Linked DNA regions of Homo sapiens. The protein of the gene in region 1 purifies or fractionates together with the protein of each later gene. This does not show direct contact. Each region holds a gene or a part of one and is shown in the gene's direction. Other genes may lie near its edges.

What was found.
Region 2: the proteins of SLC67A1 (region 1) and SLC30A9 purify together in Homo sapiens (affinity purification with mass spectrometry; 2 studies listed by BioGRID and IntAct, with this or other methods). This does not show direct contact.

The regions. Positions count from the first base shown.
Region 1 is NC_000011.10:2,900,408-2,904,155, forward strand, and holds the start of SLC67A1 (solute carrier family 67 member A1), read left to right. Parts: upstream 1-1,870; 5' UTR 1,871-1,957; exon of another isoform or gene 1,958-2,188; coding exon of another isoform or gene 2,189-2,311; intron 2,312-2,806; coding exon of another isoform or gene 2,807-2,938; coding exon 2,939-3,082; exon of another isoform or gene 3,083-3,168; intron 3,169-3,748. UniProt on the Homo sapiens protein: May act as a transporter of organic cations based on a proton efflux antiport mechanism. May play a role in the transport of chloroquine and quinidine-related compounds in kidney. Plays a role in the regulation of lipid metabolism.
Region 2 is NC_000004.12:42,084,485-42,088,232, forward strand, and holds part of SLC30A9 (proton-coupled zinc antiporter SLC30A9, mitochondrial), read left to right. Parts: intron 1-1,597; coding exon 1,598-1,642; 3' UTR 1,643-3,748. UniProt on the Homo sapiens protein: Mitochondrial proton-coupled zinc ion antiporter mediating the export of zinc from the mitochondria and involved in zinc homeostasis, zinc mobilization as well as mitochondrial morphology and health.

The DNA.
Region 1 (3,748 bases):
ACAGGCTGGGCGCGGTGGCTCACGCCTGTAATCCCAGCACTTTGGGAGGCCGAGGGGGGGCGGATCACGAGGTCAGGAGATCGAGACCATCCTGGCTAACACGGTGAAACTCCGTCTCTACTAAAAATACAAAAAAATTAGCGGGGGCTGTGGCGGGCGCCTGTAGTCCCAGCTACTCGGGAGGCTGAGGCAGGAGAATGGCGTGAACCCGGGAGGCGGAGCTTGCAGCGAGCCGAGATCGCGCCACTGCACTTCAGCCTGGGTGACAGAGCAAGACTCCGTCTCAAAAAAAAAAAAAAAAAAAAAAAAAGATATGGGGGAAATTGCCATTTCTGATGCTTAGGCTCAACAAAGTATGGACATCCATGCGGGAACACAGATGAACCAAGGGACCTGCACTAATGCTCCTGGACCGCAAGGGGAAGCGCAGCGAGGGCTGTTGGTCTAGATTTCTTGAACTTTCTGAGCAGCATTCCTTCCTTCTGGGCATGGAGCAGGACCCTCCTGGAATGGGGTCTTATGCCCTACAGTCAAACAAGAGAGGTCAGATAATTTATGGCCAGCTTCTAAACACAAAGGTGGAGGGAAAGTTAGAGCAATATTTTTAGGTTTGATGTCTGGCTGTGTGGAAAGGCGGGGTTCTGATTTCTATGACCTGCCCTGGGGAAAATGGATTCCAGTTTCTAAGGCCAGCTTCGGGGAAAATGGCACTGAGAGACAGGAGAGCAAGAGAAGGTCAGAGAAACACTTTTTCTTCCGAAGCTGCTTCTGAGGCCTTCATTTTGGGGTATTGTTTTCTGATGCCCAACATATCTGAGCTGCTGAACGAAGGGTAGCTGCTGAACCACTCCCACGGTGACTTGGAATGGCTTAGCCAGCCGGCCTTGGGCCACCTGGCTCTGGCCCCCCTGCCCACCAGGACTTTGGCCGGCTCTCGCTCGCCTCTGCGATGTCCGTCCCACCCTGTCTCACCCCTGCAGTTTTCTGCTCTGTGGAGCGATGATTGACACATGGCAGGGGGACACTGGTTTTGACATTTGAGCCTGTGCCCAGCCCTTGCCTGGGGAGGAGGTGGGGCAGGAGTCCTGAATGAGCATCTCCCTACTTAGTGACAGTCAGGGGCACGGAGAATGGTGCCCAGGCCAAGGGCAGGGCTTGGGCCAAGTGTGCGCAGCGTGGGGTGTGTGTGCTCCAGCGGCTCCTGCTGCGGAGGGCGGCATGAGGCTTGTTTACCTGTGTGCTGGCATCTCTGGTGGCCCCTGCAAGGGTGGGGAAGTGGCAGGCAGGGTGAAATGGGGAAAAGTGGGCTCTCAACTGCTCCTAGCAGCCTCCGGGTCTGGGGAGGGAAGTGAGGAGGGGCCCAGAGCTGTCTCCTGGTCACTCTTCTGGGGCTCTGTGCAGACCTTTGGCAGGGCCAGGCTACACCACACCCTCTACAACCTCCCCTGACTTCTTCCCCTAACCCCTCACCACCATTCCTCCGCTTTTCTCTCCCCGCCCCTGCCTCCCCTCCATTCTCTCCTTCCCTCCACCTCCCGGTCCCATCCCCTGCCCACACTGCCCCTCCTCAGGCCCAAAGTGGACACCGGTGCTGCCTGAGGGTCAGAGTGTCCACCTCCAGCAGCCCGGGCACCGGGCAGGATTCAAGCTGGAGGGGGCTGGGGCGGGCGAAGCCGGGCACGGGGCGAGCCCGCTGGTGGGCGGGGCAGGGGCGGGTCCTTCGAGGGGAGGGGCGGGCTCGGCCAGTGAGAGCGCAGAAACCGTGGCACGGGCGCTCCCGGAACTGGCGATTGCAAAGCGCGAGGGCTGGAACTCAGACCCAGAGGGGCGGTCCCTGTTGCAAGTCATCTCCCGAAAGGGCGGGGCCGGGGCTCATCCCGGAAGGACCGGTGTCTAGGTCACCCTGGAGCGCTCACCCCACCGGCACCCGTGCCCAAGCCCGCCCCTGCAAAGGCAGGTACTCGAGCACACTCCGGAGAGGGCGGCCTCTGAGCCCCGAACCCCGAACTCCGGCGCAGCGTCGCACCTCTGCCCAATGAGGTGCCCCTGACGTGCCTGCTGCGGCTGCCCTGCTCCCCCCAGCCTCCCTGCATCCCGGGATGGGGGAGGGCGCCAGGCGCAGCTCCCGGACCCTCAGGGGTCTCCCCGCCCTACCCCACCAGCCTGGGTTCGGTACCTCGGGGCTCAGATGTGCAGTCAGCTGTTAATGTGGCAAAATTTGGGGAAGTCCTCTGCAGCCGCAAAATCCAGTTCCCACCAGTTGGAGGCCGGGCGGGGAAGGGTGGGGACAGACAGCACTCCGCTGTGGGAGGTAAGGCAGAGCTACTGGGGAGCCTGGAAGGCTGAGCTATGTCTCCCCTACGCAAGACCATTCCAGAAGCCCCTTGGAGCTCTGGCTGCTGGCCACAGGGGAAGGTAGACCTTCCCTGAGAGCTGCACTGTGTTGGGGACAGGGCCACTGTGGGCCTACGGAGGGCCTCCAGGCACAGGGACCCACATCAGCCCTCTGGCCACAGAAGGCGCTGATGATTTGAGGTGGACTCAGCCACCACTCCGAGCCTCTGCCTCCCTCTAAAAGTGGGGCATGGCACATTCCTGTGTCAGGCAACCAGGCACTGAGCCTGGCCCACCTGCAGGGGTCGGGGGGAGCAGCTTGTCCCTGTCTCCCCTCCCCGGGAGGCTGTGTGCCTGGAGACCAGAGCTGTCAAAAGTGGAGGAGGGGGACCCCCTGATGTGTCCTCTAAGGTCCAGGTAGCAGGAGAGCTCCACTGGGGAGGGGGTCCTGCAGTGCTGTCCTCTCTTGCAGGCAAGGCCAGGCGGGTGCTGCCTGGGACCCAGTGACTCAGCACCCCTGCCCGGATCAACTGGACTTTTGCCCCCTGCTCCGCCAGCCTCCTGCTTGGATCTCTCCTGGGTCTCCCTGCTGCGCCTGTCCAGGATGCAGGGAGCTCGGGCTCCCAGGGACCAGGGCCGGTCCCCCGGCAGGATGAGCGCTCTAGGCCGGTCCTCGGTCATCTTGCTTACCTACGTGCTGGCCGCCACAGAACTTACCTGCCTCTTCATGCAGTTCTCCATCGTGCCAGTGAGTAACACACCCCAGCCCCTGCAGCCCCAGCCAGGGCTGAACCGCTGTTCCTCCTGCCCTCCATCTGGGCCGTCGCAGAGAGTGGGGGTGGGGGTTTCATGCTGCCAGGGCCCCTCCCAGTTGGGACTCATGCCACGCTTAAGCTGAGTAAGTTAAGGACTCTGCCTCTGGACCCCCGTCAGCACATCCTGTGCTCCAGCTTCAGTGCCAGCCCCGGGAGAAGCCATGGGGAGCCACCCCACTTCCCTCCTGGGGGCAGCACCTCCTCAAACCTTCCTAGCGCTGTTCCTCCTGCCTCTCACCCGGCAGCCTTTGCCCTCTGGAGTCCCTGCCCCAAGGGCTGTTCAATCCGGTGTGGCTCTGGGCGGATCACCCCTCAGAGAGGCTCTCCTTGCACCTGCCCGCAGCTTCTATCTCTCCCCTCCATCTTCTTGGGTCCTTGTTGTCCACTAAATGATCTGTGGCGGCAAATTGATCTCAAGCTTTTTCTTGCAAGAGATAGAATGCTGTCTTATTTTATTATCTCTGTTGCCAAATGCGGAAACATTTCATTGGCAAATTCATGTTAGTTTAGTGTATCATTCAGTAGTCTATACCACAGTGTGTGGCTCTGGAAGCTGTAATAGTAATGATTAAATTATATTCACCAAGTCTGGAGAGGCT
Region 2 (3,748 bases), on another chromosome or scaffold:
TTTTTTGAGATGGAGTCCCGCTCTGTCGCCAGGCTGGAGTGCAGTGGCACAATCCCGGCTCACTGCAACCTCTGCCTCCCGGGTTCAAGCGATTCTCCTGCCTCAGCCTCCCGAGTAGCTAGGATTACAGGCATGCGCCACTATGCCCAGCTAATTTTTGTACTTTTTAATAGAGATGGGGTTTCATCATGTTGGCCAGGATGGTCTTGATCTCTTGACCTTGTGATCCGCCCGCCTCGGCCTCCCAGAGTGCTGGGATTACAGGCGTGAGCCACCGCGCCCGGCCAGGTGCCCTTCCTTTGTGCACTCACAGGAAAAAGAAACCCAAAATCTTTACTTTGCTCTGTGGTAGCCGAGTGTTGTAATTGCCTACTTAATTTACCTATATCACCTCACTACCAAACGTAAGTCCACTGAAGGCAAATACTGTTTGTTCCCAGCTCATTGTCATATACACTTCAATGCCTGGCACAGAGTAGGCATGTAATAGTAGACAGTATTGGTTGTTATTGAATTGAAGTTCCTTAAGCTAGCATATAAGATTTTTAACAACCTGATTTCTGCCTGTCTTTCCAGCCTCATTACCAACCCTACCCTTTTTGCAGCTTCTGTGCTAGCTATACCATAGTGCCAGTGCACACTTTGCAGGCTGTCTGACTTTGCTGATGTTGTGTTTTCTGTCTAGACACTCTTCATTATCTACCTGGAAGGCTCATCATATGCAGACCTACCTTAGATATTATATCCTCAGTGAAATTTTCTAGATCTCATGAGCAAAATGGCTGTCTCATTTTTGCTCCCAGTGTTATTATTTAGTACAGTGTAATAGGAGCTTGGGATCTGGAATCAGGCCTGGAGTCAGGCCTGGAATCAATCCTGGCTCCATCACTTACTAGCAGTGTGACTTCAGACAGGTTAGTTAATTTCTTCGTACTTCAGTTTTCCCTGATGTATGTATAAGATGGAAATAGTAATTAGGTTATGAGGCTTTTAAAACACACATACATGTGCTCATGTAACACAGTACTTGATACATGAGTGAGTAAGCAATAAATGTTAACTTTTTATTATTAGCTCTAATACTTTAACTTGTAGATGATTACTGCTATGCTGGTCTCCCTAGCTAAACTGAGTCACTCAGGGTCAGGAACAGAGTCTTATTTAATAATCATAGCTCTGTTTTCTAGCACAGGGCCCGGCCCAAGAATATATGGATTGTTGCTAAAGTATATAAAATGAGTGGTTGTCAATTTACTCTTTTTGATTATTATTGTTTTGCAGTGATTTTGTTTTCACCACACAAAAATGTGTATTTCCAGTGCTTCGCAATGCTTGGCATGTACTAGATCCTTAATGCACTTTTGTATTAACAAACACATGAACAAACTTAGGAATGTGATACTACTTATTGTACTGTTTATAGTATGTCTATTTACCTATTGATCTTACTTTTTTTCTTATGCAACTATTTCTCTCATTAGTATGCTATAGTGAAATAGTTTGCAAATGTTTTCATTGGCTCTAATGACCAAAAGGAATAAAAAGAAACAAGATTTTATTTTGCTACAAATAATGTGGTGGTGATTTTTCTTTCCAGAAACGAAATCCTGAAGTTCGACATGTAGATTTGGAGATACTGTGAGTTTGATGGAATGAATCACCTGGGTGGGGACCTTGGAAACAAGTTTGTCCGTCCACTCTACAAAGTTTCCTCCTCTCCTACACTGAAAGACTCAGTGCCATGCAGAAGCCTTTTTTTTAAGATGAAGGAAATATTTTATGTAAAGAGCAACTCAGCAGGACACAGAACTAAAACTACTACTTACATCTAACAGACACACTACAAGTTGAATCAATTTGAAAATCATGTTTTTATGCTTCCATAGGGAACATTTTGGTTATTTAAATTGTTCATAATGTCCCATATTTCACCTGTTCAGTGTATACTGTACTTTGCAATCATCTTTCCTTTTTTCACATTGGTAAAAATAAGTGGCATCCATAGGATCATGATTTTTAATTTGTTGCCTCTGAAGATTTCACTCCATCAAGATCTGCCAATCTTCAATATTCTGGCTAAATCTTGGTATGTGGTTTTTAAACAGTCACTCCGTTTCAAAGTCTGTCTTTCCTTATAGAATGTGGAAATTATTTCTCCATACCTTGTGATTTTGACCTGAGTGCTAAGAGAATCACTCTCCTTACCTAGTTATCTACAAATGTTCATTCCAGAAATGTTTAGTTACTGAATTGAATGAAGACATCTCAGTACACTCTTTTAGGTCATAGTAGTTGCCATTTTGTAAAATTTCTTTTTTCTTCTTTGCTTTTTTCCCCTTATTTGGTTTAATTTTTCTAATGTTAGGAGATATAGTCCTAGATATTTCCATGGGCCAGTGTGATGACTTTTTTTTAAATGAGGTTCAGTACCATAATGTTTATTTACTGGAAGATAATGCATTTATAAGCATTTTAAAATTCTGTAAAGTGGGTTAGAAATATTTATAATTTTACAGGCAGGACAGCATTTGACTTTTATTTAAAAGGCGGCACTACTTATGTAAATCTGAGCTGTGGGATATTTCTTGCTTTAAGAGAGAGACAGAATCTCTCACTGAAACTCATGGTCATGATTTTGTATAATATAGTTCATACTGTGTCTGTGAGTTTCTTCAGTTACAAATGGGCATTTAGTATAGTTATATTGACTATAACATGTAAGTAAATAGCTTTCTACTGACCCTAAGTTATCAAGGTGGAAAAAAAACATGCAATTCAGTAATTGAAAATGTGGTGAAAAGCTGCAGCTGTCATCATCAAAACAACTCATAACATACTTTAAAATGTTCAGGTAGCAGTGAGCATTGTTCATATGAGAATGGCGGCTGGGTGATCTCTTTGCTGAATTAATGAGTTCTTAACATGTGGACCCAACTGCCTGTGTGAGATCTGTGTCTTAAAACTTACTGGAATGGAAATCTATGAATTATTGCAAATTGTAATGCTGGAAACAAAAAATAAATCCTTGGTTAAAGGGTTTGTAATGGTGATTTTTGACCCAGAAATCTCATTTACTGGAAAATTGTGAGACTTTACGTTGGTGTATTTTTCTTTTTTTTTTTTTTACTATTACAGAGTATTTTGCATGCTGTACATTTTAAGTGAAATAACATTCCAGTTTTATTTTTAAGATAGAAAATTGTTATATATATATATAATTTGATACTCTATTCTTACAGTTTCAAATTCCTTATCCCTTCTTTACAAAAAAAACTTTTTTTTTACCTGTTATGATTTATTCTATACTTTTTTCTTCTTCCTTCCCCTTTCCCACTTGCCATTTATTACTTCATGTCATTGCCATATGAGAAAGTACCAAATTATATCCAGTTTCCTCCTAGTGATATTACTCTGAAAAATTTCACAAAGCCAGACAAGAATAATTACTCATTTTTTTTCCCAAGACGACCCTCAAAGTTAATGTGCAGCAGGTATTCCAAATGGTAATTTTTTTTTTTTAGGATTCCCTAATAAAAAAAAAAAAAATTCTGATATTTCTTTTTAAATCTGATTTTGGTTGAGGTCATACCATTCTTAAATAATAATTGAAGGTTTATGTTGCCATCTTTTCTAATTCTGTTTTGCACTGATAAACTTACATAAAGTTTGTTTATGTAAAATAAGACATAAAGGAGTACAACATATCAAGGAATTTGAGTATTTATGTGGAATCAGGAAATTTTTCTAG